3 separate regions of the Homo sapiens genome follow, and all the other regions are linked to region 2. The links come from fine-mapping of genetic effects on gene expression. A gene starts in region 2. Each other region holds a variant in brackets. All regions are shown on one strand. Distances are from middle to middle.

Region 1 (11,150 bases), 170 kb after region 2:
CTCATCTGTTCTCTGATGCTCCTGCCTCATCTGTTCTCTGTTTTCCCTACACTGGCAGAGGGGAGGATGAATATCCACGGCCCCTCATTTCCTTCATTTGGATGACGGAAAGATGAAAATGTTTCAGCATCTCTTGTTGACATGTGAGCTGCAGTAAGGCCTGAAGAATCCTCTGCCCACCGAGAGCTGGGGCAGTGTGTGGGGTGTGGCAGAGACAGAAGAGACGGGAAGCTGGACATCCTGTGGACTCGGGTATCAGCTCACCTTCTACCAAGCATTCCATTCCTCTGCTCAGGCCCCAAGTCTCAGAATCATCCTTGCCTCCCTTCTTTCTCCCTCTCCCTCCTCATCCAATCCGCCAAATCCTACCTTCACAATCTGGCCAGTCAGCATGGGTGAACCTTGAGGACATTATGGTAAGGGAATAAGGCAGTTCCCAAAGGACCAACACTGTGATTCCACTTATCTCAAGTACCTCAGGGAGTCAGATTCCTAGAGACAGAGAGTGGAATGTGGATGCCAGGGGCTCTGGGGAGGGGAAAATGGGGGGTTACTGCTCAATGGGTACAAAGTTTCAGTTCTGCAAGATGAAATGAGCTCTGGAGATGGATGGGGGTGATGGGTGCACGACAATGTGAATGTATGTAATACCACTCAGTGTACACTCCAAAACGCTGAAGATGCTTTTATGTTGTATGCATTTTTATAATAAATAAATTATACAATAAAGACCACCGACTTCAAGTTATGATCTCTCATTGGACAAGAGTGACACAGGAGAAGCGTGGACAAAGTCCCCCACTACCACAAATTATGCAGTTGAGTTTCCTGCATTTGGAGAAATGGCAGGGGTCAGCCTACCTGGAGTGCAGTGGGTGAGCCTCACTCTGGGAAAACCATCTTCATGATCATGGCACCTTCCCTGCCAGGGAAGTATGTTATATGGACTTTATCACAATTTTAAAAATACACCCACATATAGATTTATCTCTATCATCTATATCTATCTATATCATCGATATCTATCATCGATATCTACCTATATCTACACCTAGATCTATATCATCTATCTCCAGTGCTCCTCCTCCCATGGCTACTGGCCTGGTCCAAGCTGCCTTTATTTGTCATCTAGATGATTGCAATGACATCCTTCCTGGTCTTTGCCTCTGTAACTATGTTCCCAACGTGTAGTCACAGTGATCTGAATAAAACATAAAACAGACGTGTCGCTGTTCTGCTCTGAAGCCTCCATTTGGCCTCTTATCTTTCTTGGAGTAAAAGCCAAAGGGCTTACCACGGCCCCCATGGGATGTCCAGGCTGGCTGTCAGTATCCCTCTGCCATCACCTCGTGCTGCTCTCCCCTGACTTGGCAGCCGCAGAGGCCCGTTGACTTTGCTGTTCCTCACGTAGACCACGCCGAGCGCGCTCCTGCCTCGGGGCCTTTGTTGCCGGCATCCGCTCTGCTCTAAATGCCCTTCCACACAGCCTCCTGCCCAGGGCTCTCACTTCCTGCAGGTCCCAGCCCAGATCTCCTGTTAGCAATGAACCTTCCCCAAATACCCTAGGAAATAAGGATGCCCCTTGCCCCACCCCACACTCTCTGTCCTACCTGCCCTGCCCTTATCAATTCCTATTTATTTCCGCTAGAATGTAAGTTCCAGGAGGGCAGGTCTCTTTCCGTTTGGTTGGCTGCTGTATTCCTAACACCCAGAGCAGGGCCTTGCTTTTAGGCACTCAATATAGTTGTTGAATGAGTATATTGAGACTTCCATTCCTTCAGGCAATAAATCGATCAGAAAGACAGAGGCCGCTCTAGGTATTTCAAGCAAGAAGAGATTTTTCTCTTCTTTCTTGTGAATTTTTGTGGGTACATCGTATGTGTGTGTATTTGTGGGGTCCATGAGATGTTTGGTTCGGGCACGCCATGTGAAAGGAGCACATCATGGAGAATGGGGTGTCCATCCCCTCAGGCATTTGTCCTTTGAGTTACAAACAACCCAATTACACTCTTTAAGTTATTTTAAAATGTACAGTTATTATTGACTACAGTCTCCCTGTTGTGCTATCAAATAGTAGGCCTTTTTCATTCTTTTTTTTATTTTTTATTTTTTTTTTACCCATTACCATCCCCACCCCCCTACTCCCCTTCCCAGCCTCTGGTCACCATCCTCCTACTCTCTATGTCCATGAGTCCTATTATTTTAATTGTGAGAATATGTGATGTTTGTTTTTCTGTGCCTGGCTTATTTCACTAAATACAATGATCTCCAGTTCCATTCATGTTGTTGCAAATGACTGGATCCCATTCTTTTTTATGGCTGAATAGTACTCCATTGTGCATATCTACCACATTTTCTTTATCCACTCATCTGTTCATGAACACTTAGGTTACTTCCAAATCTTGGCTCTTGTAAATAGTGCTGTAACAAGCAGCAGTGCAGACATCTCTTCAATATACTGAGTTCCTTTCTTTTGGGTATCTACCCAGCCATGAGATTGCTGGATCATACGGTAGCTCAATTGTTAGTTTTTTGAGGAAGCTCCAAACTGTTCTCTACAGTGGTTTACTAATTTACATTCCCACCCACAAGGGTCCCCTTTTCTCTGCATCCTCACCAGCATTTCTTATTGCCTGTCTTTTGGATGTAAGCCATTTTAACTGGGCTGGCATGATATCTCATCGTAGTTTTTTTGTTTTTGTTTTTGTTTTTTTTTTTGGAGACGGAGTCTTGCTCTGTTGCCCAGGCTGGAGTGCAGTGGTGCAATCTTGGCTCATTGCAACCTCCACCTCTGGGTTCAAGTGATTCTCCTGTCTCAGCTTCCTGAGTGGCTGGGATTACAGGTGCATACTGCCACACCCAGCTAATTTTTTGTATTTTAGTAGAGACGGGGTTTCACCGTGTTACCTAGGCTGGTCTCGAACTCCTGAGCTCAGGCAATCCACCTGCCTCGGCCTCCCAAAGTGCTGGGATTACAGACGTGAGCCACCACGCCCGGCCCTCATTGCAGTTTTGATTTGCTTTATCTAATGATCATGGTGTTGAGCACCTTTTCATGTGCCTGTTTGCCATTTCTATGTCTTCTTTTGAGAAATAGCTATTCAAATCTTTTGCTCATTTTTTGATCAGATTATTAGACTTTTTCCTATAGAGTTGTTTGAGCTCCTTATATATTCTGGTTACTAATCCCGTGTCAGATGGGTGGTTTGTAAATATTTTCTCCCATTCTGTGGGTTGTCTCATCTCTTTGTTGATTGCATCCTTTGCTATGCAGAAGCTTTTTTACTTGATGTGTTCCCATTTGTCCATTTTTGTTTTGGTTGCCTGTGCTTGCAAAGTATTGCTTAAGAAATTTTTGCCCAGACCAATGTCCTGGAGATTTTCCCCAATGTTTTCTTGCAGTAGTTTCACAGTTTTGTCAGAGGCGTTTGAATCAGAGCAACTCCATCTTGAATAGGATCTTGGTAACACGAGGCTGAGACCTACTGGGCTGCATTCCCAGACAGTTAAGGCATTCTAAGTCACAGGATGAGATAGGAGGTCAGCACAAGATACAGGTCATAAAGACCTTGCTGATAAAACAGGTTGCAGTAAAGGAGCTGGCCAAATCCTACCAAAACCAAGATGGCGACGAGAGTGACCTCTGGTCATCCTCACTGCTACACTCCCACCAACACCGTAACAGCTTACAAATGCCACGGCAATGTTGGGAAGTTACCCTATATGGTCTAAAAAGGGGAGGCATGAATAATCCACCCCTTGTTTAGCATATCATCAAGAAATAACCATAAAAATGGGCGACCCGCAGCCCCAAGGGCTCTGTGTGTGGAGTAGCCTTTCTTTTATTTCTTCACTTTCTTCATAAACTTGCCTCCACTTTACTCTCTGGACTCTCCCTGAATTCTTTCTTGCACGAAATCCAAGAACCCTCTCTTGGGGTCTGGATCAAGACTCCTTTCTTGTAACAGTTTGAGGTCTTAGATTTAAGTCTCTAATCCATTTTGATTTGAATTTTGCGTATGCTGAGAGATAGGGGTCTAATTTCATTCTTCTGTGTATGGATATCCAGTTTTCCCAGCACCATCTATTGAGACTGTCTTTTCCCTAGTGTATGTTCTTGGCACCTTTGTCAAAAATGAGTTCACTTTAGGTGTGTGGATTTGCTTCTGGGTTCTCTATTCTGTTCCGGGGGTCTATGTGTCCTTTTTAATGCCAGTAACATGCTGTTTTGGTTACTTTAGCTCTGTAGTATAATTTGAAGTCACATAATGTAACTTCTCTAGTGTTCTTCTTTGTTCAAGCAAGAAGAGATTTAGGGATCTAGGAATTAGAGCTTCAAAATCACTGGAAGGCTAGAGGTGCGAAGGTTCAGGAAAGCCATTCATTGCCCTCAGGCCCACCACCAGTTACAGGAAAAACAACAAGTTTCAGAACCTGCAGAAACCATTGCCAGGGTCACATTTGCCTGCAGTACCAAGGTGGGATTCACTGGGGAAATGCTCAAATGCCAAGGCAAACTCATGCTTGCCGTGTTTGCCACCTGTTGAAGGGGGAGCAGCAAGCCGGCTTGCCTCTCTTCTATTTTCCAAATTTCACTCGAGTGCCTCTCAGCGGCCCAATCTAAGTTGGAATGCTCCTAGTTGGTATACTGGGAAATATAGTCCCCAGGCTTTCTACTCCCCAGTACAGAGCTGGCACACCAGAGTGGAGAACCAGCCGACGACCCAGCAGAGGCAGAAGATGCCACCCTGTGTTCTCTTCTTGCTTCCCCCCAAGTTATCCTTTTTGTGGGAAGAGACTCTCCAAGAAAGAGATCAATGATGCAGATGAATTTCAAGGATTGAGGTCTGTCAGATTTCAGAGTCCACATGTGGAGGGAATGTCTACCTTAAATTACCAAAAGGTAATGATTATAGCTTAAGTGTATTGAGCTGTACTATGTGTCCAGTACTATTCTAAGCCTTTCATATAAATTACCGAATTTAGTCCTCATGAGGCAAGCATTATTATTCATCCTCATTTTATTTTATTTTATTTCATTTCTTTTTTTCTGAGACAGAGTCTCACTCTGTCACCCACGCTGGCATGCAGTGGTGCAATCTCAGCTCACTGCAACCTCTGCCTCCTGGGTTCAAGCGATTCTCGTGCCTCAGCCTCCCAAGTAGCTGAGACTACAGGTGCACGCCACCACGCCCAGTTAATTTTTGTGTTTTTAGTAGAGATCAGGTTTCGTCGTGTTGGCCAGACTGGTCTGGAACTCCTGACCTCAGGTGATCCACCTGCCTCAGCCTCCTAAAGTGCTGGGATTACAGGAGTGAGCCACTGTGCCCAGTCTTCATCCTCATTTTATAGATGAGGAAAGAGAAAGTGGAGGCTAAGTATCTTGCCCAAGGTTGCATAGCTAGAAAGCTGTGGGGCCACATTTTCAACCCTGGCTTTCTGACTTTGGAGCCTGAGCTTCTAAACATTAGATTACATTCCCCCTCCCCCATAAAGGGGTGGAAACACCAGTTCTGGGCATCTCAGCTACAAGAGCATACATGAAGGAAAGGCTTTAAACGTCTATGTAAATTTGTCAATAACATAAAAATAAAGATGACCTGAATGTAGCACTTGGGAGGTCAAAACAGAAGCCATGAGTAGGTCTCAAGAAGTATGTTGCTCTGGGTCAGGGAATCCTGCAACAGCAAAGTCGCTTGTTCACTGTGGCACGGAGAGGGGTAAGTAGGGAGAAGTGTGGCTTGCAACTTGGAATTCGAACCCTTTCCCTGCCACACTAACTTCTTTGGTGGTGTTGGCATATCATTTAGGCTTTTTGTATTTTGGGGCTTCTCACAGTTCTAAGTGAAATAACGATGTTAACTTTATCCAGAGAAGAATATGGGGGAAGTCCTAATCACTTAGTATAAATTATTCTGAAAACCAAACTGCTAAAGCATAATGCTCTATGCTGGCAGAGAAGTGAATATTGCACTAGAGAATCTTCCAGGTGTCATTTAAAATTCAACAGTGATGGGCCTCCAGTAACTAAGGAAGATGACTTCACAGTCTGCTAGATTTTACGGTCATTGTTTTCACCTTGAAAGCTTGCCTACACTTTCTTAATTTTAATTTAAATCCATCCCTCCTTTGAAACCTCCTAAACTAGGTGTGTTTCTCTCTTTGTTCTCACCCCTAGACATGGACTTCCTGAAAACAGTCTTGTTTTACCAGTTATTTTTAGATTTTATACATATTCTAGTTGCTTCAGTCTTCACTTTGAAGCCATCCCTTCTAAGTTGTTTAATTACTGTGATCATACACTACATTTATCTTTCGGGCAATAAGATGTTCAGAACAGAATGCAATATTTTAGATTAAGTTTCAGGCTGGGTGCGGTGGCTCACGCCTGTAATCTCAGCA[G/C]TTTGGGAAGCCGAGGTGGATGGATCATGTGAGGTCAGGAGTTTGAGACCAGCCTGGCCAAGATGGCAAAACCTCATCTCTACTAAAAATACAAAAATTAGCCAGGCATGGTGGTGGGTGCCTGCAGCGCCAGCTACTTGGGAGGCTGAGGCAGAAGAATTGCTTGAATCTGGGCGGCAGAGGTTACAGTGAGCTGAGATTGCGCCACTGCACTCCAGCCTGGGCAACACAGGGAGACTCTGTCTCAAAAAAAAAAAAAAAAGAAAAAGTTTCAACTGAGCTATTTCACATGAAAGCAACGCACTAGATTCATGATACATACTGAGTTCCTCCATATACCTGTAACCAGAGCCACACCCAGTGCTGTGCTGAGTGTTAGGGACACAAAGATTAAGGACCTGGCTACCAGCCTCAAGGAGCTTAGAGTCGAATGGTTATAATGCACAGATTTTTGAACCCTTAAATGGGTGTCTCAAATCTTGAGTCAGAGCTCTGTAATTAGCAATCATTTTGCACCTTAGCTCTGCACAGTGGGTTTAGAACTCTTCAGGAGTAATCAATTTAATAGAGAAAAGAGGGCAAATAAAAACACAAATGGATAGCACGTGCATAGCTATATTGTTAGTGATTAGGGAAGATCAGATTGCAGTCCCAGAGGGACTGTGAAGAGTGTCATGGATCAGTGGGACTCATCGAGAGACGCTTCCTGCAGGAAGTAGGCCTCCCTTAATGTAGCAAAAGTTTACATTATTTCTGAACATTAATTATGTAATTAATTACATAATTAATTTCATTAATGTAAATTATTCATTTACATAACTAATGTAAATTAAAGTTTACATTAACTACATTTAATTAATGTAAATTAAAGTTTACATTAATTCCATTATCTCTTGCCTGTCTTTAGGGAGAACTGCTTTATTTATTTATTAAAATTTTATTTTATTTCAAATTGAGGGGGTACATGGGCATGCTTGTTACGTGGGTACATTGTATACTGGGCTTCTAGTGTACACATTACCCAGAGAGTGAACATCATACCTGATGGGTACATTTTCAACCCTTGCTCCCTGCAAGTCCCTGCCCACCCACTTTGGAGGCCACGTGTCCACTGTTTCCATCTTCATGTCCATGTGGACTCACTGTTTTGCCTCCACTTACAAGTGAGAACACGCAGTTTTGATTTTCTGTCTCTGAGTTAGTTCCTTAGGATAATGGCCTCCAGCTCCATCCATGTCACTGCAAAGGACATGATCTCATGCTTTTGTATGGCTGTTTTTTTTGTTTTTTTTTTGAAGAGATAGTCTCACTATGTCGATGAGGATGAAGTGCAGCGGCATGATCATAGCTCACTGCAGCCTCGAATTCCTGGGCTCAAGAGATCATCCCACCTTAGCCTCCTGAGTAGCTGGGATGATAGATGTACACCACAACTGGCTAATGAAAAAAAAAAAAAATTGGCTGGGCGCAGTGGCTCACGCCTGTAATCCCAGCACTTTGGGAGGCCGAGGCGGGTGGATCATGAGGTCAGGAGATCAAGACCATCCTGGCTAACACGGTGAAACCCCGTCTCTACTAAAAATACAAAAATTAGCTGGGCATGGTGGCGGGCGCCTGTAGTCCTGGCTACTTGGGAGGCTGAGGCAAGAGAATCGCTTGAACCCGGGAGGCGGAGGTTGCAGTGAGCTGAGATTGGTCCACTGCAATCCAGCCTGGGTGACAGAGCAAGACTGTCTCAAAAAAAAAAAAAAAATAGCAATGTGGTTTTAGGATGCTGCCCAGGCTGGTCTCAAATTCCTGGCCGCAAGCAATCCTCCTGCGTCAGCCTCCCGAAGTGTTGGGATTACAGGTGTGATCCACTGCACCTAGCCAAGAACTGCTTTCCAAATGTCTACCATGCAGAGTCAGGGTCATTGTCTCCGTGAGTAGGAAGTTTGATGTTTTGGCTTGCCTTCATGCCTTTGATTTTCTCATACTTTTGAGACTCCATATTTTCACACTTTATTTTCCCTTCTGCAGGTGTGTTGGCAACACCTCTCGATTTAGCTCATCCCTGCATTTTATCTGTTGCTTTTTATTCCCCCTTAAAGAACATTAAGATGAGAGCTAAGGCCAGAGCCAGTGCTGGTGTCAGGCCTCCCTTCCTGGGGCCTGTGGGTCACATGTCACAATTTGTGGCCTAGAGCATTTGGTTGTGTTTTCAATCCATGCACCTGTGTTCTTCTGGGAGCTGAGATTTGCTAAGATTCGCTACAGTGAAAGTTTTATCTAAGTAAACATCTCTCACCTCTTTTGGGGACTTTTCATCTGTGGAATGAGTGAAACGGTCCAAAGGTGATCAAGTACGCAAGACAGCCTCCTCTCTCTAGGACCTGGATCTTCCTCGCTCCTCATTCTCATGAACCATTAGTGGGTTTTTTTTCTTCTTTCTCTTAGGACATGGTCACAGTTGTGTGCAGCAGTGAAGCTGGACATAAGAGAGCACAGCCAAACTGGGGCTGTGGGGTGTTTCCTCTCACCTGTTCTTCACCTGTTCTTGCCCACTCAGAGCATTGTGGCCCCTGGCTTTTATTACTGCTTCTTTAGTTGCCTGAGATGCAGTCTTCATTGGGAGGAGCTTGAAAAGAACTCACTAGCAGGACCTAGTGCACAGCAGGCATTTAATAATGATTTGTCTTCGGCTCTCTCTGCAACCTTGTGAGTGGCATTGCACCCTGCAGCCTGCTGTTACACACAGAGTCAGATTAGCTATGGCTAGTCACGGCTAGTCACGGCTGGTCATGGCTAGCTAGTCACGGCTGGTCATGGCTAGTCATGGCTAGTCACAGCTGGTCATGGCTAGTCACAGCTAGTTACAGCTAGTCAGGGCTAGTCACAGCTGGTCATGGCTAGTCACAGCTAGTTACGGCTAGTCACGGCTCATCACGGCTCCTTGTGGCTAGTCACGGCTAGTCACGGCTAGTCATGGCTAGTCATGGCTTGTCACGGCTTGTCATGGCTCATCACGGCTTGTCCCGGCTCGTCCCATGACGGGATTCTCTGGGCATCATTCTTCTCCTGGGACTTGGTGTCCTCATCCTTCCTGTGGGAGCGAGGAGGCTGCCTCCCTCACGGGTGGCTGTGAGGAATTATAAACCAATAAAGTGACTGCTTAGCATACGGCTGAATGTGAAGGGCAATAGAAATGCTTAATTTCATTTATTTGCTAGTAGTTGGGTGGCCACGTGAATGTTGCTGTGGAGACCATAACTCCTGAATTCCCCAACACTTACCTATGCTGTTGTTTTTAAATGAAGCTTTACACTTAAATCTTGTGATTTTTTTTAAAATTAGAAAAGTAGCAGGAAGGGTCACAGCTTGCTCTCCATCTCAGCCTTTTCATAGGAAACTGTGAGCTGCTACAGTCCCCACCTAGGAGCATCTACTGACCAGTTACTCTCACCTGATCCCTCTCTTCACCCAAGGTCATACGTCTTCCATCTATCCATCCACCCGTCCACCCATCCGTCCATCTGTCCACCCACCTGTCTGTCCACCCACCCGTCTGTCTGCCCACCCATCTGTCCATCTGTCCACCTGTCTGTCCACCTGTCCACCCGTCCATCTGTCCACCCACCCGTCTGTCCACCCACCCGTCCGTCCATCTGTCCACCCACCCATCTGCCCACCTGTCTGTCTGCCTGTCTCTCCGTCCACCTGTCCACCCGTCCGTCCATCTGTCCATCCACTCTGTCCACCTGTCTGTCCATCCACCCATCTACCCGTCTGTCCATTTGTCCACCCACTTTGTCCACCTGTCTGTCCATCCACACGTCCGTCCATCTGTCCACCCACCCGTCTGTCCATCCACCTGTCCGTCCATCTGTCCACTCCCCCATCTGCCCACCTGTCTGTCCGTCCACCCGTCCACCCATCCGTCCATCTGTCCACCCACTCTGTCCACCTGTCTGTTCACTCATCCACCTGTCCATCCATCTGTCCACCCACCCATCTGTCCACCCACCCATCTATCCACCTGTCTGTTCCTCCATCCAGATACACTGCATTTCCAACTCATGAGTTGAATGGGCCCCATGTGAGTAGATCAGAACTGTTGATTTTCTAGTGAACCTTTAGAATTGAGAGGATGGAGACGTGATGGCAGATTCTGTGCAGCTGATGAGGTGAAGGGGGAAGTGGCAAAGGGAACATTTGCAGCAGTGATGGTGGAGGCTTTAGCAATTCCGTGCTGGTGCCCAGCCTCAGGCAGCACACAGCTGTGAGATGACAGTCAAGCCAGGGGGCAACAACAGCACTGCTTAGAAAAATGGGTCTTGATTCTAAGCCCTCATTGGAGGAATCCTGGAATCCCACACCCCAGCAAGTCCCTCTCTTCCCTGAGCAGGTCCTCAGGTTGCTTCCGTGTCTCCACCACGGTCTTTGAAGCCCTTCTCTGGGCTGTGTGTGCTTCTCTGCCCACCACCCTTACGGCTGACTCTGGTGGCCATCGCTCCCACAGCTGAAGCTGCTGCACCTGCTGCGGCTCGTATGGCTTAGGTGGAGACAGCCCGTGCCTTACTCCTGGCCACGGCAACTTTGTTCTGGCAGTTCTTTACAGAGTTCTTAGTATCACAACTTTTTTTTTTTTTTTTTAATTAAGCACACATTCTCAGTTCATTTTCTTTAATGGCTCTTCTATTCCCAACAGCAATCAGCCAGTGTCTTTTGATGATCTTCCCAGTGCTGGGGTCCCCTCTCCCAAGACGACA
Region 2 (8,846 bases):
CCACACCTAGAGAAACAGTACTGTTTTAAATGTGCTGTAGGAGTTCAGAGAAATACTGATTAATGTGGTTTGGAATAAATTAAATAATAAAAAGCTTTGCTGAATACAGTTAGTTTAAAAAATATAAAAATATAGGGGGATTTGCAGAGAAATCTGTTCAACTCTTAAAATAATTTTTAATTTATATATGTTTATATAAGAATTCCATTTTATTAACATGAAATACTAGTACCTTTTTTTGGGGATGGAGTCTTGCTCTGTCATCTGGGCTGGAGTGCAGTGGCGGATCTCGGCTCACTGCAACCTCTGCCTCCTGGGTTCAAGCGATTCTTCTGTCTCAGCCTCCCGAGTAGCTGGGATTACAGGCGTGAGCCACCACATTCGGCTAATTTTTCTATTTTTAGTAGAGATGGGGTTTTACCATGTTGGCCAGGTGGGTCTTTAACTCATGACCTGAAGTGATCCACCCGCTTCAGCCTCCCAAAGTGCTGAGATTATGCGTGAGCCACCGCGCCTGGCCCAGTACTTTTACTGATGAAAAATGTAATGTAAAAGGAAGGTCTGTCTTACATACAATAAGTGCTGAATCTGGGTCTTTTTTAAAAAAAGTCATTGAGAAGACTTACTCCTTTCTTAAGTTTTAAGACATTTATTATTGCAAACAGAAAAATTGTACTAGATACCGGGGATATATAAACGAATAATGCCGTTTCTGTCTTCAAGATCTTACTGTTTGGTAGGTGGAAATAAAGTGAACGAACGAAGGCACTGCAAATCAATGTGGGAGGCTCTATAAGCATGGGGCCACAGAGGAAAAGGCTGAGAGGGAAAGCTTCAATGACTAGGTGACTTCAAAAAGGTCATCCTGGCCAGGCACAGTGGCTCACACCTGTAATCCCAGAACTTTGGGAGGGCCAGGCAGGCGGCAGATCGCTTGAGCTCAGGAGTTTGAGAGCAGCCTGGGCAACATGGGGAAACTCTGTCTCTACAAAAAATACAAAAACTAGCCAGACATGGTGGCGCGCGCCGCTCCTCCCAGCTACTTGGGAGGTTGCGGTGGGAGGGTCACTTGAGACCGGGAGGCGGAAGTTGCAGTGAGCAGAGATCACACCACTGCACTCCATCCTGGACGACAGAGCGAGACCCTGTCTCGAAAAACAAAAGACAAAAACAAAAACAAAGGTCATCCTGCAGGACAACCAGGAGGGCACAAATGTGTGTCTGTGGGAAGCTGAAATGTTGGCGGGGGAAAAAAGCAGGGAAAGGCATTCCAGAAAAAGGAAACTGTAAACAGCACACGAAAAAGCATAGTGAATGAATAGGAAGCCTGAGACCAAACTTAGGGTTTCCTACACTTATTTCAAAGCCCTTCATTATCTATATGGAAAGGGGGAGTCTTTAAACACAAATATTTAGATCATATTGACTGAGATTTAGATATAAATGAATGCTAATAATTACTTTTCGTTATTTTGGGGTGTTAAACATTTACTGTACAAGATTGTATTCGTTTTAAGTATCTTCTAACATGAGCCATTTTGTAATGATTCAGTTGTTTATATTCAATTTCAAGTAGAATGCTGATCACAGCGCCAAATGGGTATCTTCTACAGAAAAAGTTATTTTAATAAAGAAAAATATAGTCAGTTTTAGGATTTCCTGAGAGATTATAGAAACAATAAAAGCATTAAAACTGTTAAGTCATTAAATACGAGTACCTTGTATTTTGAAGGCTCTTAAAATTTAGTTTATAAATTGCTTTTACATAACATATGCACTGAAATACCACTTAAGATTAGTTTTGAAAATAGGTGTTCGTTTCAACCACATCATTAGGTATTTTATTCAAAGCTCTTTATAAAAAGAGCTTTACTATGTTCCAGTATAGTAAACTTATCCAGAAAATAAGACAAAAATTTAACTTCATGCTATAGCTGCAAAGTTTTCGGAAAGCGGGATTTAAAACTTCCATTGTAACTTTAACTAGCGGTCATGTCAAATTTCACAACTAAGAACATTTTAACGCATGTAATACTGAGCACAACATGGGCACGTTTTTGTTGCTATGAGAACCTTCTATTTTGTATTAGACATTGCAGCCTTGACGACGCAATGTTTGTGCTATTTTGCGCATGTTTTCCTGCAGCTATTCCTCTCCTCTAGCAATAGTCGAATGGCTCTGGTTTCCTCTTGCGCCCGGCCCAGTTTTTCCGTTTTAGCTTCGGTTGTCATAGGCTGTGCTGTCGCTTTCTCTGGGAAAGGACGGTGAAGACTGGACGGGAGAAACCGGGAGGGCAGGCGCGGCCGTTCTGCAGCAGCCGGGCCGCTTCCCGGCGGGAGGCGGGCTGCGAATGGGAAGCGGGAGGAGGAGGCCGGGCCGCGGGCTGGTTCTATCACCCCCTTGGGAGCCCAGCTCTTCACCTAGCTCTCCGGCGCTTTTCAAAATCTGCAGTTAACAACAAAAATCGAGCAACGCCACGTCGCACAAACAGGACAGGAGGGGGCGAGGGGTGTGTGCGCGCGCGTGCTGTCCCCAAATGGATGAGAAATAAGGGAAAGGAGGGGTTGGGGACCGTGTGATGAAGCAACATGCTAGGCCCGGGACAAGTCCGGCTCCGGCCTCGGGTCTGGAGGGACAAGGCCGGGGGCCGGGTGGCAGACGGGGCCTCTGGTCTTCCCCCAGCGCGAGGGTCGTGGCGCGAAACGGGGACAGGGCGCGCGCTCGGAGCCTCCTCCCCGCCCCGCCCCGCCCAAGGGTCTTCCTCCCCCGGGATTCAGAGCGGCCCCTCCTCCAGGCCAGGCTCGCCGCGGGGCGCTGAGCAGGCCGGGACACCGCGGCCGAGGTTATCGTTAGGCATCTCCCAGGCGACCGGCTCCGCAGCAAGATGGCGGACGAGAAGGACAGGGAAGGTAAGGTAGGGGAGCCGGGGAGCCGCTGCCCTCGCCGCCCGCCGCGACCCCGGGCTGCACGGGGAAGCGCCGGGTGGGGTGGGCCCTCGTCCATCTGGAGTTCCCACCCGCAGGGAAAGGGCGGCCTGAGGAGGGGGCCACCCGGCAGCAGCAGTCGCCCTGCCCCCGTCCCCGTAGCCCGCCCGGCCCGCCGCTCCGCCCCGCCCCGCCCCGCCTCTCTCCCCCGCCCCGCCCCGCCTCTCTCCCCTCTTCCCTCCCTCTTCTCTCTCCCCTCCTCCCGCCTTCTTCTTTCTCCTCCCGCCCTCTTCACCCTCTTCCCCTCCTCCCGCCCCGTCCTCCTTCCCCCTCCCTCGGAGGCCGGGCCTTGCATCCTGCGCGGGCTGCGCCGGAGGCGCCGGCAGGGGGTGCTGATAATGGCGTCGTTGTTCACGGTCGCGGGGAAGCCGCCGCCGCCTCCACACTCTCGCCTGGGGTCTCGGTGCCGCAGGCGCCACGCCCGTAGCTGTCCAGGCTGTGGGCCCCGGGGGGTGGCCTGGGTGAGGAGGAGTTCTGGCCGCCTGAATCTGACGGGATCCTCTGTTTGCGCCGAAACCCCGCGCTGGCGCAGCCTGATGGCGTTCGCGGCCACCATTTTGCCTCCTTAATGAGGACGCAGGAGGACGGTCTGGAGGTCACAGCCGCTGCCTCCGAGCTTCCCGGTCCTCCGAAATGCCTGCCCCGCCGCCGGCTAGCGCCGCGCAATTGGCCTAGTGTCTTGTCTTAAAAAAAAAAAAAGACACACACCCAAACAGCAATTTTAATAACGACGAAAAACCAAAACCTGGTTGAGATCTTGGAACCGCTGTGCGCCGGCCGGGCCTCTCCCAGGGGACCACCCAGCCCCGCGCGGTGGCCGCCTGCAGAGGCGGGACTGCGCTTCGAGGCTTAAGGTCGCCAGTTCGGAGGCATCGATGTGTTGTCTGTGCGGAGAAGCCAAAAAGTGATTACGTTTATTTGCAAGACCGTTCATGTTGTTTTCAGTTCATGGTATGATTAAAACCCGATCCTTTGTTACCATGCCCTTAGGTACTAAAAAATAATTGTGTTTGATAGTTGGCAGTCACCCAAAAATATCCAAAAAGCCATGAAACAGTAAAGGTAAACAAGTAGGAAGTGAAAATAATATTCGTCCTTTGTTTTCTTTCTGGAGTGCTCAAAACACCCTCTCAAACCATTTTTCTCAGCATAGAACCAAGTGTGGTCAGGTTAACAGCTAATATTTACAAGGGAAGAAACGAACCCTGAGATATTTAGTCACTTGTTCCGGTGATCACAGAAAATCGGCGAAGAAACACATGAAACTGCCAACGATCTCTCTATTGATAACAAGGATACCGTGATTTTTATGTAATATTAATCTGAGAAGCCAGGATTATTTTGTAGGTATTAGCTTTACGAAGATGCCCTTACATACAAAGAAAAGGATAATTTTAAAACTTTCCCAGAAAAATGGATGGCTTATTTTTGTTCTTTACCAAAAAAAAAAAAAAAAAAGCCATTAGGAGATAAACTAGCAAGGTAATTATGGATATTTATTTTCTTAAAAAAGACTTGGTTAGGTCAGCATGAGAAAAAACGCACTGGAGTATGGTACAAATACAGTATTTCTCGTTTTTTAAAAACTGAGAGCTTTCCTGATTTTTCAGCTTTTGAACAATTTTTTTCCATTTAAAGTAAATTCAGAGAAACAATTTTGTCGATAACTCATAGAAGTAATGACTGTTAAAAGCTGGATGCCATTCATTCAGAATACATATATTCAATGCCATTATGTAGATAAGGCATTCTACTTAGAACTTTGAAAGATACGAAAATGAAAGACATTGTCTTTGCTTCCAAGGAAGGTGAGATGAGTAAGGGAGATGAGAAATTTACAAATGGGAGGAAATAGTTAACTGGGCTGAGTAGTCTGGGTGCCAACCACTGTGCTAGGTGTGTATCCTTGTAGTCCGTGGACAGCAGCCTGGACATCACTGGCTGCCACCGACCTAATAATGAATCAGTCTTCATTTTAACATGTTTGTAGGTGATTTGTATGTACATTAACTTTCGAGAAGGCCGGGCGCGGTGGCTCACGCCTGCAATCCCAGCACTTTGGGAGGCTGAGGCGGGCGGATCACGAGGTCAAGAGATCGAGACCATCCTGGCCAACATGGTGAACCCCGTCTCTACTAAAAATACAAAAATTAGCTGGGCGTGGTGGCACGCCCTGTAGTCCCAGCTACTCAGGAGGCTGAGACAGGAGAATTGCTTGAACCGGGGAGGCGGAGGCTGCAGTGAGCCAAGATCACACCACTGCACTCCAGCCTGGCGACAGAGTAAGACTCCGTCTCAAAAAAAAAAAAAAACAAAAACAAAAAACAAAGTTCGAGAAGCACTCATGTGCTGTATCTCATTTATTGTTAACAGTTTTATGGATTAACTAATTGCAGTTTGTGAAGGGTATTATGAAATAAAGGCATTTTGTTAGAGGATAAACTAAGTAGAGACTCATTTTGGTGGTAAGATCTTTTTATGGAAATAGTCTATTACTATATTTGATTGTCAGCTACTGTATTTTGAATTTTCAGAAATTACGTCTAACCAATTAATCAGAATTGATTAAGTTTTGAGGATTCACTCAACTAAACTCATAAAAGACTGATGTGCAAACCTGAATGATTTATTAATTTAAATAAGGGTATATACATTGACTTGAAGGCTGATTTTGCCAATATACTAATATAATAATTTTGGCAATATACTAATATAATAATATACTGTTTTATGGGTACTAAGCTTCGGGTAGTGTGAATTTGTATTTCAGAAGTCATTTGATGACCGTGGAATCACACAAAAGAAAGGATAATTTTGAAGGATGTGTTCAGTACCCTCTAAGTTCCAAAAGATCTGGGACCATTTCTGATCTGTTAATACTGAGTGTTGTGCAGAGTGCTTGGAACGTGGTAGGTAATCAATAAATATTTGTTGAATTCAGAACATTTGAATTAATCAAAGACAGCTTATGAGATTTTAACCAAAGCATTCCTAGCTATTTTCCCCAAACTTATTCTATACCTAAAAGTACACAAAACTCGTTTTAGGTCTCTTTTCCCCTCTGCTTTACCGGTAAGATACATTCTTCTATTCCATCTGGCTCAACAAAACGTTTTATTTCACAGTGCCACGGTATTCACTAGCATGTCTTTAAAAAACAACTACAAAAAACCTCATTGTAGAAATACACATATGTTTTAAATAGTTCATCCTTAATATTGAGATTTCTAAAAGTTCTAAAGGGGGAATAAGTTTCAGGGTACCTATCCTATCCACTCTTCTTCAATATTTAGAGATTAACTTTGATAGAAGTATTGAGAATATTGATAAGAAAAATTACCTAAATTAGAAGGGGCTATTGTGCTCATAAAATTTTTTTCTAAGATTATGTACGTTGAAGTTGTTATACTTATTTGTAGCATTTTTTGCTTTCATACAGTATAATTTATTTTTTCATAGATTAAAAATTATACAGAATTATATTAGCTAAAAGTTTAACCTTTAGAACCAAATTATTTTTAAAACCACTTTTTTAACTGAAAGAAGAATGTTTGAAACGGGATGAGAAAAAATATTTTTGAAGGTTTATTATTTTTCCAAAGTTTCCTCAGCCAGAACATTTTTTGTTTTGTTCTTTCTTTTCCTTCTGTTTTGTCTGTTTAAATGGAGAGTCAATGCAATTGTTGATTCTTTGGCTCCTTAAATCTTATTGTTTCTGTCTCTTAGAGAATTTTATATAGGACTGGAAGGATCTTCTGTTTGTAATTAGACTCACGTCTAGGAAACAAACTGCTTAGTTATAAAATTTGAACTTTTGGCAGCCAGTGAGCTTTGGAAAGTAAGAACTTTTTAGTAAGCTGCAGATATTAAAAGCTCACTCTAGGATTTACTATTTTTGTTTCTATTAAAATATTCTTTGTTACTTTGCGTGCTTTGATAACATTGCTTGATAAAGTGCCTCTAATTCAATTATCACCTCCTAAATGGAAGAGGTTTTACAAGGTTTGTTGTTTTGTTTCTGATTTCCTTCATTGTGCCACTCTTTTGAAAACCCAACATTTGGAAATATAAAGTAAAAAACAGAAATTTCAGGTGCCTATTACTTTATAAAAAGGGTTCCCTTAAATAACGTCTTTGTTTTTTTTTTCTTCTTTTATTTTGAGACAGGGTCTTGCTCTGCTGCCCAGGCTGGAATGTGGTGGTGCAACCTCTGTTGCCTAAGCTGGAATGTAGTGGTGCCATCACGGCTCACTACAGCCTCGACCTCCTGGGCTCAAGCGATTCCCCCGACCTCAGCCTCCCAAGTAGCTGGGACTACAGGCGCAAGCCACCATGCCCGACTAATTTTTTTAATTTGTAGAGACAGGGTTTCACTGTGTTGGCTACGCTGGTCTCAAACTCTTTATTTTTTTTATTTTTATTTTTTTTTTGAGATGGAGTCTCGCTCTGTCGCCCAGGCTGGAGTGCAGTGGCACGATCTTGGCTCACTGCAAGCTCTGCCTCCCAGGTTCACACCATTCTCCTGCCTCAGCCTCCCGAGTAGCTGGGACTACAGGTGCCTGCCACCACGCCCGGCTAATTTTTTGTATTTTTAGTAGTGATGGGGTTTCACCGTATTAGCCAGGATGGTCTCGATCTCCTGACCTTGTGATCCGCCCACCTCGGCCTCCCAAAGTGCTGGGATTACAGGCGTGAGCCACCACGCCTGGCTCGAACTCTTGAGCTCAAGTGATCTGCCTGCCTTGGCCTCCCAAAGTGCTGAGATTACAGGCATGAGCCACCCTGCCTGGCCTCATAGTAACTGTCGATAGTATAGAGTGTAGCCTGTGGGACAGTACAAAGGTTGAGCTTTGAAGTAAGACTTGAATTTGAATTCCGTCTTCCCCAAGCTCTAATTATCTGATCTTAGCCGAGATGCTAAACATAAGTAGCTTCAAGTTCCTCAGATGTAAAGTGGGGATAATTATACCCCCAATATTTCATAATGTTGTAATGGGGACAATGTTTTCTTATTCATTTTTACATCCCCAGCACCTGCCACAGTGCCTGGCATCAAAGGAATGCTGAGGCCGGCTCACGCCTGTAATCCTAGCACTTTGAGAGGCCCAGGCAGGTGGATCACTTGAGGTCAGGAGTTCAAAACCAGCCTGGCCAACATGGTGAAACCCTGTCTCTACTAAAAATACAAAAAATTAGCTGAGTGTGGTGGCGCGTGCCTGTAATCCCAACTACTCAGGAGGCTGAGGCAGGAGAATCGCTTGAACCCAGGAGGTGGAGGTTGCAGTGAGCTGAGATCACACTACTGCACTCCAGCCTGAGTAACAGGGTGAGACTCTGTCTCAAAATAAATAAATAAATAAATAAAAAATACAATAAAGGAATGCTGAATAAATGGGAAAGAAAGTGTTTGGTACGTATCTAGTGAATTAGTAAGTATTAGTATCTGCTTAACATAAAACATAAGAGTTGGCCAGGCGTGGTGGCTCCTGCTTGTAATTCCAGCACTTTGGGAGGCCGAGGTGGGGAGATCACCTGAGGTCAGGAGTTCGAGACCAGCCTGACCAACATGGTGAAACGCTCTCTCTACGAAAAATACAAAAATTAGTTGGGTGTGGTGGTGGTTGCCTGTTATCCCAGCTACTCTAGAGGTTGAGGCAGGAGAATTGCTTGAACCTGGGGGATGGAGGTTGCAGTGAGCCTAGATCGCAGCATTGCACTCCAGCCCAGGCAACAGAGCAAGACTCCATCTCAAAACAAAAAAACAAATAAAACATAAGAGTTAAGAAAACTTTTAAGTCTTACCAATTGGGATCATGCATAATGCATTCCTGCATATTTCTGGGGTAATTTAATAAGTTTTC
Region 3 (11,150 bases), 150 kb after region 2:
CCTGGGCAACAAGAGCAAAACGCCATCTCAAAAAAAGAAAAGAAAAGAAAAGAAAAGAAAAGAAAAGAAAAGAAAAAAATAATGATAACAACAGTTGATGAAATGCTTTGATTTCCAGAAGACATTATATAAGGAGAGAACTTTACTTGCATGGGACAGCTGATGAGCTCCTCAGCTAGGGAGAGGGGAGGGATTGACTCATTCTTGATGATGGGGCAGGGCCAAGGCTGTAGGGAATTGGGCATTGTCTGGTTGCTGGTGGTATGAGATGCTGGCGGAGCCCAACCCATGCCTCTGGCTGTTATGCGAGGGTGGGAAAATTCCAGTTTGCTAGAACCATTAATAACACAAGTGGAAATCATGGGTAAGTTTACAGTTTATTCAAGCAAGTACTTCTAATTAAACAGAAAAAAAGAGTGTGAACTCTTGACCAAGGCATATTCATGATTTTCAGTAAAATAATTTCTCACTTCTAGTGGTCAAAATAATAATGAAGTGCGAATATGAAGTGAAATGCAACATTAAGGGTTGGTTAACCCCAAATTCTTTCATCAAAGAGCAATATACAAGAAATTGGAGAGTTTTTTTTTTTTTCATACTAAAAGTAACCATTAAGGGTAAAGAACTGAGCCTGGCACAGTGGCTCATGCCTGTAATCTCAGCATTTTGGGAGGCCGAGGCAGGAGGCCAGGAGTTGGAGACCAGTCTCGGCAACAAAGCGAGGCCCTGTCTCTACAAAAAAAATTTAAAAGTAACTGGGCATGGTGATGCATGCCTGTAGTCCCAGCTACATGGGAGGCTAAGGCAGGAGGCTGAAGTGAGCCATGATCACGCCACTGTGCTCCAGCCTGGGCAACAGAGCAAGACCCTGTCTAAAAAAAAAAAGGAGGCTGGGCACGGTGGCTCACGCCTGTAATCCCAACACTTTGGGAGGCCGAGGCATGCGGATCACAAGGTCAGGAGATCAAGACCATCCTGGCTAACATGGTGAAGCCCCGTCTCTACTAAAAATAGAACGAATTAGCCACACGTGGTGGCAGGTGCCTGTAGTCCCAGCTACTCGGGAGGCTGAGGCAGGAGAATGGCGTGAACCCAGGAGGTGGAGCTTGCAGTGAGCCTAGATCATGCAACTGCACTCCAGCCTGGGCAACAGAGCGAGACCCCGTCTCAAAAAAAAATAAAAAATAAGTAAATAAGTAAATAAATAAAAGAGCAAGGAACTGAACCCAGTGGATAATGCTGGGGCATCAGATAGAGGCTGTTGGCCATTTAGTTAAAATAAGATGGATGACCATAATCTGAAAGATGTAAAAAAAGAAACTGACCTAATTTATTTTTTTGAATGAATAAAATATATGTGGTACAAAATTCAAAAGGTATGAAGGCTCATAGAGTAAAAACTAATTTTTTTTTATAAATGTGTCCCAAAACCACTCGGATCCCTCTCCCCTGAGTGCACCGATTCCAGGGAATCCTTGTGTGAACAGGCAGGTAGCATCCTTATGCGCCCTTCACGCATCTCTACACATCACACTTTTCTCACTAAGCAACAGGTCCCATACGCTCAGTTCCTAATTGTATAAATACCCACCTCATCGATCTCAATGTCTGTGTAGTATTCTATTGCGTGAATGTGCCATATTTTATTTAACCAGTTCCCTTCTCAAGAATATGGAAGCAGTTTTCCATCTTTCAGAAACTCTGATTTATTTGTTTATTATTTGTATTTTTTTCCTGACAAAAATGCTGTTCAGAACAGAAATTCGAGTTTAAATTGCAGTGGCTGTTCTGGTTCATGTAGAACTAGACTTCAGCCTTTTCCTCATTTTCTTTTGCCTGGTAGACTTTTGCTTATCCTTTTATTTTCAGCATTTTTCAAACATTTTATTTTGGGTGTGTCTCTTGTATACCCAAGCAGTGATTGCAACATTTTCAGCAATTGCTATAATTTCCATTTTAGATACAGAGACACCTGTCACTTCGCACCTTAAATGAAGAGCTTCTGAGCTAATTTCTTCAATGGGAAGGCACCTCGGGGGTGATACATGAATAACGTGGAATAATGCAATTTGGGCAGATTACCAGTTAAAAGCAATGTTAGGTTTGGCCCACTTTGCCTTGCAGGCCGCTAAAGCCTCAAACAATATGACACCTGGCCTTTTACAAAGACCGGACAGTGGAGGTGTTGACAGGAATGGTGTTAAGCCAGGTTCATCTGGGTTTGTCAAGCATAGACTTCTACTTTTAAAATATTTAGGGCAAATACAGTTCAAAATTAATTTGGTCAACTACATTTTTCTTAAGTTTCTTTAGTTTTGAAACCTTTGTATATTTTTATTAATTATGAAACTCATACAAATGTTATGTAGGCAGAATTTTCAGGAAGTTTTATGCCCCTTTTTATAAACCTGTAACAAAGAAATAAGTGATATAATAGGGAAATACGGAGGTGTATTTGCAGTCTTTGTATTTTACAAAATTATCATTTGACCATAGATGTGATCGTTGCTGTTCCAAGTAACAGAAAGCTCAACCCATAAAAGGAATTAACTGGCTTATATGTAACGGAAGAGTCCAAAAGCAGACATAGCTTCAGATGCAGCTTGATCCAGGGCTCAGATGCCATGATCAGAATCCAATTCTTGCATCTGTTTCTTTGGGTTGGCTTCATTTTCAGGCAGCCCCCTTCCTCATATCCTCAAGATGGCAGAGACAGCCCATGGTCTTTCCCTTGCAGAGACAGATCACCAGGAAACAATACCTCTATCCCTAGCCATGAAACAGTCTTGAACTTTATTCTGACTTGATCAGCCAAGTCCCTGTTGGAACCATCACTGCCTAGCTTAGGCCTGAGACAGTGCTGCACCTCTACTACCAAAGGCCGGGCTGGCCTTCCCTAAAGTGTATGTGCTGCGTGGGGGAGAGGTACGGATCTGAACCAAAACGAGGGCTGTCCAGCGTCAGCAAATATCTCCCGCAGTCCCAGTGCCTCCAGCAGGAGGCAAAGCATCAACCCCTCCGTCTGGCTCCTCTACTGAAAATTCCCTCAGCAGCCTCACAGGCCTTAGGCTTGTCTTAGCTACTTCTTCATCTACTTTTTTGCTTTCTTAATTATTTTTCTTTTCTTTTTTCTTATTTTATTTTATTTTATTTTAGATGGAGTTTCGCTCCGTCGCCCAGGCTGAAGTGCAGTGGCGTGATCTTGGCTCGTTGCAACCTCCACCTCCCGGGTTCAAGAGATTCTCCTGCCTCAGCCTCCTGAGCAGCTGGGATGACAGGCACACACCACCACGCCTGGCTAATTTCTGTATTTTTAGTAGAGACGGGGTTTCACCATGGTCTGGTGACCTCCTGGTCTCGAACTCCTGACCTCAAGTGATCCTCCCGCCTCAGCCTCCCAAAGTTCTGGGATTACAGGCATGAGCCACCGCACCCGGCTGCTTCCTTAACTCTTGATCTCCTCTCTGTATCTTGCTTTGTCTAGCTGTTCTCTTCTCTCCATATTCATCCAAACATTTGCTTAGAAGTACCCAGAAGCATGGCGTTGAATGTGGTACACCTTGAACGAAGGGTGAAGAAACGAGGCAGAGTGACTTAGTAGCAAGTGACAGCACACAGTTTAAATTTTAATATTAGCCCATTTACAAACAACAGCTTATATAATAGTCATTCACATACCTCAACACTCACCATCCCCTCCCCACTTTTTTTCTGGAGACAGGGTTTCACTGTCACCCCAGCTGGAATGCAGGTGGCATGATCACAGCTCACTGTAGCATCGACCTCCTGGACTCAAGGGGTCCTCGCGCCTCAGCCTCCTGAGTAGCTGGGACCACAGGTGCATGCCACCACGCCCAGCTAATGTTTTTTTTTATTTTTTGTAGAGACAGGGTCTGGCTATGTTGCTTAGGCTGGTCTCAAACTCCTGGGTTCAAGCGATCCTGCCACCTCAGCCTCCCAAAGTGTTAGGATTACAGATGTGAGCCACTGTGCCCAGCCAACATTCACCCCATTCAAGTGTGCAATTCAATGGATTCTAGTATCTTCACAGTGCTGTGCAACTATCACTCCTATCTACTTACAAAGCATTTCCATCATCTTAAAAAGAATCCCCATGTCCAATAGCAGTTCCCCTTCCCCCACCGTCATCCTCGGGCAACCGCTAATCTTCCTGTGTGTCTGTGGATTTGCCTCTTCAGGGCATTTCACATAAACACAATCATACAATATGTGGCCTTCTGTGTCTGGCTTCTTTCATTTAGTGTAAGGCTTTTGAGGTTCATCCATGTTGTAATGTATATCCTTAGTTCATTCTTTTTTGTTAAGCTCACAAATAAAAAGCCTCACTTTTTATTTGAGGCAAGGAGACTGGCTACAGGGATTACAGTTCCAGCAGTCAAAACGCAACTCCAAGTGGCACTATTTGGACCGTAGGTTTTGCTTCATTTTGGCTGGAAAAGGGTATTCAGGATGTACTTCTCCCAGCCGGACAAGAAAAAGGGCAAAGAAAACTGGAAGAGACGTCTCGTCTACACAAACTGCTCTTTGGACACAGCATCAACCTGACCACACCCGTGCTGGCCAGTCTGCAGGTTGCTGACCCGCCGTTAAGGGACACAGGCCATACTACACTTGCTAGAAAAACTGAGGCAGGAAAAAGAGGTGCAAGGCACTGGGGGAAGAGCAGGTACCTATAGCTTTAAAGCTCAGTGTTGAAGGGGTAATCCTTGCAGGAGGCACAGCTCACCAAGACACAGACCCTCCCGTTCCTGTTGTAGCTGACTACAGTGGTCACATCAGGCTGCTCAGTTGAAAGTCGAAGTCCTCCAAGTTTTCAGCAGTGCGTTCCAGCATCACCACCGAAATGATGATAGGAATTACCACCAAATTCCTATGCATGGGAAACCAGATCAGAACCTGGGCTGCGTTTTTATTTGTTTATTTTTTTTACTGTGCTTGGCTGTGATTGCTTTGGTGCTGGGATCCCCCAGACCTGTCACGAGAGCTGAGGGGACTACAGGCAGTCACCACCTTGCCTTTGGATTGGCAGCCCTGGATTAACTTCTCCTGAGGTGGGTGCAGGTGGCACTCACTGTGGTTAACCACTGTTTTTAAGCCAGGTTTCTTTTTTTCTGTCTGTCATATATATATATATATATTTAGAGACAGGGTCTCACTCTATCACTCAGGCCTGGAGTGTAGTGGCATGATCATAACTCACTGCAGCCTCGAGTTCCTGGGCTCAAGTGATCCTCCCGCCTTGGCCTCCCAAAGTGCTGGGATTACAGGCTGAGACACCACACCTGGTCTTAAGCCAGGTTTCTTTACCATCTCTTGGAGATGGCTGCAGTTGGAGATTCCAAAAGCTTTCAGAGCCCTTCATCCACCAGCTCCTCCATGTGGCCACC[C/G]ATGTGACATGAAGTTGGTGTCACTAGGTACCACGTTGTCTGTCCCATCCAACAGGAAAAATAGCCTGTTGGCCAGTGAATAAGGTAGGAATCCAGGTGGTCCCCTGAGGGTCTTCTGACAGGCTCCTTTATCAGGCTCTTCTCATGGTATGAGCACCGCAGCTTGCTGACAGTGGCAACGTTCTCAAGCTTCACAGACTCCGTCACTTGGCCTGGAGGGGAATTCTAGGTGTCCAGCCCCAGGACAGGCATTTTGGCACCATGATTGAGCACGATATGGTGAGCCATCCTCACAGGATTAAGAAGAATTCTGGACAGAAATATAGTTGTAAGTAAGCATCAGTCAGCCTGCACTTTGACCCACTTCCTTGTAACCAACAGTGACGTAGCACTAGGTAACATTTGCATCCCCGTTGTTCCTATAGATACAATTTCTGACCTTAGAATCACAAGGCTTTTGTTTAAAATAGATGGGATCTCTGACATTAGAATCATAAGATTTTTGTTTAAGACTTGCTTAAGATGTTTTTCAGATCCTGAATTCCAGCAAAACAGCCGACACCAACCAGTTTGAAGACCCCCACAGAGGAATGTGATCAGCATGAAAATACAGCTTCGTCTCCCTCTCCCATGACTCCACCCTGCACACTTCGACCAATCAACCATCTCCACACTCCAGTCTCCACTCCCAAACCCTTAAAAACCCCAGCCCCAAACTCCTCAGGGAGATGGATTTGACGTTTCCTCCCATTTCCTCCTTCGGTGGCCCTACGATGAAACCTCTTTCTCTGCTACAACCCTATGCCTCGGCGTATTCACTTTCTGGTCCCATCCAGCGATGGACCCATCGTGGTTACCGTGGCTGGCCAAGCCTGCTGTGCTTCACAGACCCCACTCAGGATCACACCACTTCGTTCCACTGTTTGGAGATGCCATGTTTGCTTATCCCTTCATCAGCTGATGAGCATTTGTGCTGTTTTCACTTTTTGGCTATTACGAAAATGTTGCTACGAGCATCCATGATATTCGCCCATTTAAAAAAGTGTTTTTCACCATTACTGCTGTGGGAAATTTCTCCCTGGCTCTGTCCTTTCTTTGTAGCCCAGCCTTCCCCCAGGTTTTGGCTCTCCCTCTCTGGCTCAATGTCAGCTCCTTGTCTCACCTCCTAGAGCAATTCCACTCTCCCACCTCCTGCTGCGGCATTTCCAAAGCCTCTGCTTAGCAAGGGACCACCCATTCTGCACCTCTCCCCTTAGGGCTGCAAGCACCTGCACAAACTTGGTGGTTATCCTATGCCTCAACTCAATCAAATTCTCTCAGTTTTCCATCAGCAATCTTTTTAAGCCAAAGGGAAGGCAAGGACTTGATCTTCACATCACATGAATCATGACACCTGCCTTAGAAGGCAGAAGCAACTGTAGTTGGAATAGCAATTGTTTTTCAACATATGGGATGATATCAAGGCTCTTTCCTCCCCATATGTCCTGCCCTGTTAGTGGCTGGGGCTGAGGGTTTTCCCAGGAAGCCAGATTGTCCTCACAAGTTCCTCAGGACCCTAGGGCTTCCACAGATAGTAGGACTGTTATCAGAAAGAAGTCTCGATCCAGACGCCGAGAGAGGGTTCTTGGATATCGCCCAAGAAAGAATTCAGGGGGAGTCCATAGAGTGAAGTGAAAGCAAGTTTGTTAAGAAAACAAAGGAGTAAAGAATGGCTACTCCATAGGCAGAGCAGCTCCGAGGGCTGCTGGTTGCCCATTTTTTTTTTTTTTTCTTTGAGATGGAGTCTGGCTCTGTCGCCCAGGCTGGAGTGCGGTGGCACAATCTCGGCTCACTGCAAGCTCCGCCTCCCGGGTTCACGCCATTCTCCTGCCTCAGCCTCCCGAGTAGCTGGGACTACAGGCGCCCGCCACCATGCCCGGCTAATTTTTTGTATTTTTAGTAGAGATGAGGTTTCACATGTTAGCCAGGATGGTCTCGATCTCCTGACCTCGTGATCCACCCGCCTCGGCCTCCCAAAGTGCTGGGATGACAGGCGTGACTCGTGATCCACCCGCCTCGGCCTCCCAAAGTGCTGGGATTACAGGCGTGAGTCACCACGCCGGGCCGGTTGCCCATTTTTATGATTATTTCTTGATTATATGCTAAACAAGGGCTGGATTATTCATGAGGGAAAGGGGTGGGCAATTCCTGGAACGGAGGGTTCCTCCCCCTTTTAGACCGTGTAGGATAACTTCTTGACATTGCCCTGGCATTTGTAAACTGTCATGGCGCAGGTGGGAGTGTCTCTTAGCATGCTAATGCATTATAATTAGCATATAATGAGCAGTGAGGTCGACCAGAGGCCACTCTCATCACCATTTTGGGTTTGGTGGGTTTTGGCCACTTCTCTACTGCAACCTGTTTTATCAGTAAGGTCTTTATGACCTGTATCTTGTGGTGACCTCCTGTCTCATCCTGTGACTTAGAATGCCTAACAGGCTGGGGACGCAGCCCAGCAGATCTCAGCCTCATTTTACTCAGCCCCTCATCACTCTGATTCAAATGCCTCTGACATGACCACGCAGATTTGAGAAACAGGCCCTCAGCCAACCAGACTCTGGCTCTACGACACACTTAATACTGTGAAAAGAAGATTACGGGTCATAGTCACAAATACCAGGGGTGCAAAACTTCAGATTAGAAGACACTTGTCAGACTCAGAGGCTCATCCAACTCCACGGAGATCATTATCACCACAAGTTCTTCAGACAGGTGTGGAGGTTTTCTAAGGGATATTTTTATTTTCTGGATTGCAATTTTGTTTAGGAAGAGATGAAAGTGAGGATCAACTACTTTGAGGATTGTACAACTTTGTAAATTGCACAAATATGACGGCATATTTATATCTGCCTGCATTTGTGAAAACAAACTTGTCAAGGAGCTTATTTCTGGAAAGGGTCAATGATTCTAGAAAAAAAAAAAAGATAAATATGAGACCCTTCAGTAAAAAGAAACTTACTCTAGGGAAGTTTTTTGTTTTTTTAAAGAAGCAGTATTCACTCGTGTTTTTAAAAAGGAACATGGATTTCAACAATAATATAATGAGTAAAGCATCTGTTTCATTTATGAAATTAGACCTATTAAAGAACAGAATCATTGAGGGTTAAGGTAGGATGAGAGTGACAGGGAAAGAAAATGGAAGGAAGGCTAGGCACGGTGGCTCACGCCTGTAAGCACAGCACTTTGGGAGGCCGAGGCGGGCAGATCACCTGAGGTCCAGAGTTCGAGACCAGCCTGGCCAACATGTTGAAACCCCATCTCTACTAAAAATACAATATTTAGCTGGGCATGGTGGCAGGTGCCAGTAATCCCAGCTACTCAGAAGGCTGAGGCAGGAGAATCGCTTGAACCCAGGAGGCAGAAGTTGCAGTGAGCCGAGATCACTCCACTGCACTCCAGCCTGGGCAACAAGAGCATACCTCCATCTAGGAAAAAAAAAAAAAAAGAAAAGAAAAAGAAAATGGAGAGGAAAACAAAGACCAAGGCGCACCCAGGCCTTTTGAAAGTGAGGCTGTGACCCCCGTGCAAGCAAGAGCCCTGTGTGTGGCTCCCACGGTGCCTGCCACATACTAGCTGCTCAATAAATGGCTGTGAAATAAATGCTGATCACAAAGGACAGAATGGGAAAGATTAAGAGAGAGAAAAGGAAGTGTGGAGGAGTACAAGCAGAAATAACAGCCTGGGCACAGTGGCTCATGCCTGTAATCCCAGCACTTTGGGAGGCTGAGGTGAAAAGATCATTGAGGCCAGGAGTTTGAGACCAGCCTGGGTAACAAAGCAAGACCTTGTCTCTACCAAAAAGTCAAAAAAAAAAAAAAAAATTAGCCAGGGTAGTGACACACCTGTAGCCTGTACTTGGGAGGATGAGGTGGGAGGATCACTTGAGCCCAGGAGTTCGAGGCTGCAGTGAGCTATGATCGCACCACTGCACTCCAGCTTTGGGCTAAAGAGCAAGACCACATCTTGAAAATAAAATAAAAAATAAAAAAGAGAAATAATAACCAATTCCACTAACGTAAGGCTTTTCCACTTCCAAAACCCTCGCCATGACTTGATTCTTATAGTCAATCCACAGGGTAAGAAAGAGCATTTGTACAGAGAAAGCAATAACATTTATGGTGGAGAAGTGAAGTCTGTCACCAGAGGCCACACTCCTGGGAGGTGGTAGGGCCAGTTCTAGACGAGGACTTCCATCTGCCAGCCCCATCCTGACTGCATGACTCCACGCTGCTTCTGTCTTCTGGAGGCACAGCCTCAAAATCGGGCCAGTGTTGAGGGGCCTGGGGACAGGGCTGGAGATGGGGCTCTGGGAGGCATCAGCACAGGGAAGATTTTCGGAACCACGAGACTGGTGAGACCACCAATGAGCGGCGGGGAGCGCAGATGGAGAAGAGGGGCCGGAGGACCGAGCCCTGGGTGCCCATCCTTCAGAGGGTACAGAGAAGGGACGGATCCGAGAAGGTGACTCGGTGGAAGGAACCAGAGGGAGGGAGTGGGGAGTCCTGGGAGCCGCGTGGAGAGTGCATCAGGGAGGGAAGGGGGCCACCCTGCCAGAATATAACAGTGCCTGATACCTAGTGAGCGCTCCAGAAATAAGAGCCCGTTCCTATTTTTATTAATGTCTTGTTGAGAGGAGGAGCGAGCAGTGAGTACGGTAAGAGCTAAATTGTCATGCACCACAGCACAGAGTAAAGAGCTGATGTCTCAAATGGATAAATCAAGAAACAGCAGAGCAAGCGCATTTAGAAAAGCAGAGGTGAATACCTCAAAAACCTCAAAATGGTCACCTCAGAGGGGAGGAGGACAGGTGTGGAGGGGAGGGGCAGCCAGGACTGGGGATTTTAAAAAATAAGCCTTTTGATATTATTTGCACATGTATTTCTTTGATAAAGATTTTTTTTTTAATTTTTAAATTTTTGTAGAGATGGGCCCTCACTCTGTCACCCAGGCTGGAGTGCAGTGGCATGATCATAGCTCATCGCAGCCTCGACCTCCTGGGCTCAAGTGATTCTCCCGCCTCGGCCTCCCAAAGTGCTGGGATTACAGGCATGAGCCACGCCCCCAGCCTGATAAAAAAATATAAGCTTCAAAGGACACAAAAAGAGGGCTTTTGCACACGCAGTTGTCTAAGGTGATTGGTGAATGGTTTTGGGGGGCTGATTGCAGAGCCCACCAGGCGGCAGGGCTGGCGTGCACATTCTCCAGGACCCCACGTTCACACTCACTGTCCTGGACATCTTCCCTGCACTGCTAGGACACCTCGTTCTTTATTCACTAAGCTCTTTCCTGGCTCAGTGAGAGAACATTCAGAGGCCCCAGCAGCAGAGGAATAACAGGCTCCAGTGGAGAAGGGACCGGGAAGGAAGTAATTGGAAATCTCTCTTCCTCCCAGGTTCTATCTCCTCTGCTCACTCCCCACTGCTGAGGGTCGGTACAAAGGGGGGTGACACACTCCCACCCCATCCTTGTCACACTGTGATCTCCCCCAACGCATCAGTGCCTGCACCTTCCAGGCTCCGGAAAGACGATGTGCCCTTTCTGCTTTGGAAAATCACAGTTCTCAGAAGACCAACAGAAATGCATGTAGAAAATGATGGAAATTACTGGGTATCAGAGGACACGATGACCTGAATGAGTAAGAAGATGGTGGGGGCCGGGGGGTAGGGCGGAAGCCAGCTAGGACCTGATAGTGACAAATGCATA

Evidence for each region. PIP is the estimated chance that this variant, and not a neighbour inherited with it, causes the effect. A credible set is the group of variants that fine-mapping cannot tell apart.
Region 1: its variant is the best candidate, but not a certain one, in a credible set for the expression of DRC8 in prefrontal cortex (GTEx, PIP 0.52).
Region 3: its variant is the best candidate, but not a certain one, in a credible set for the expression of DRC8 in whole blood (TOPMed, PIP 0.88).

The regions. Positions count from the first base shown.
Region 1 is chr1:245,133,154-245,144,303 of GRCh38, forward strand. It overlaps the pseudogene RNU1-132P. Among named protein-coding and RNA genes, the nearest start is that of KIF26B, 16 kb to the right of the region's middle. The variant G/C (reference allele first, on the strand shown) is at 6,403.
Region 2 is chr1:244,967,534-244,976,379 of GRCh38, forward strand. DRC8 (dynein regulatory complex subunit 8) reads left to right here and starts at 2,149. Exons shown (of 8, transcript NM_032328.4): 1 at 2,149-2,510; 2 at 2,796-2,910. The coding sequence starts at 2,886. It overlaps LOC124900416, which reads right to left and starts at 3,037. Exons shown (of 4, transcript XM_054328428.1): 1 at 2,793-3,037; 2 at 2,722-2,791; 3 at 1-2,719. The coding sequence starts at 3,004. The coding sequence ends at 2,453. It overlaps EFCAB2-AS1 (EFCAB2 antisense RNA 1), which reads right to left and starts at 3,336. Exons shown (of 2, transcript NR_111907.1): 1 at 3,279-3,336; 2 at 1-2,446. RefSeq lists enhancers at 499-1,003, 3,442-3,811 and silencers at 2,212-2,351, 2,622-2,801, 2,812-3,171, 3,182-3,271.
Region 3 is chr1:245,118,764-245,129,913 of GRCh38, forward strand. LOC124904572 (a long non-coding RNA gene) reads left to right here and starts at 10,449. Exons shown (of 2, transcript XR_007066991.1): 1 at 10,449-11,082. It also overlaps a transcript of DRC8 not described here. The variant C/G (reference allele first, on the strand shown) is at 5,409.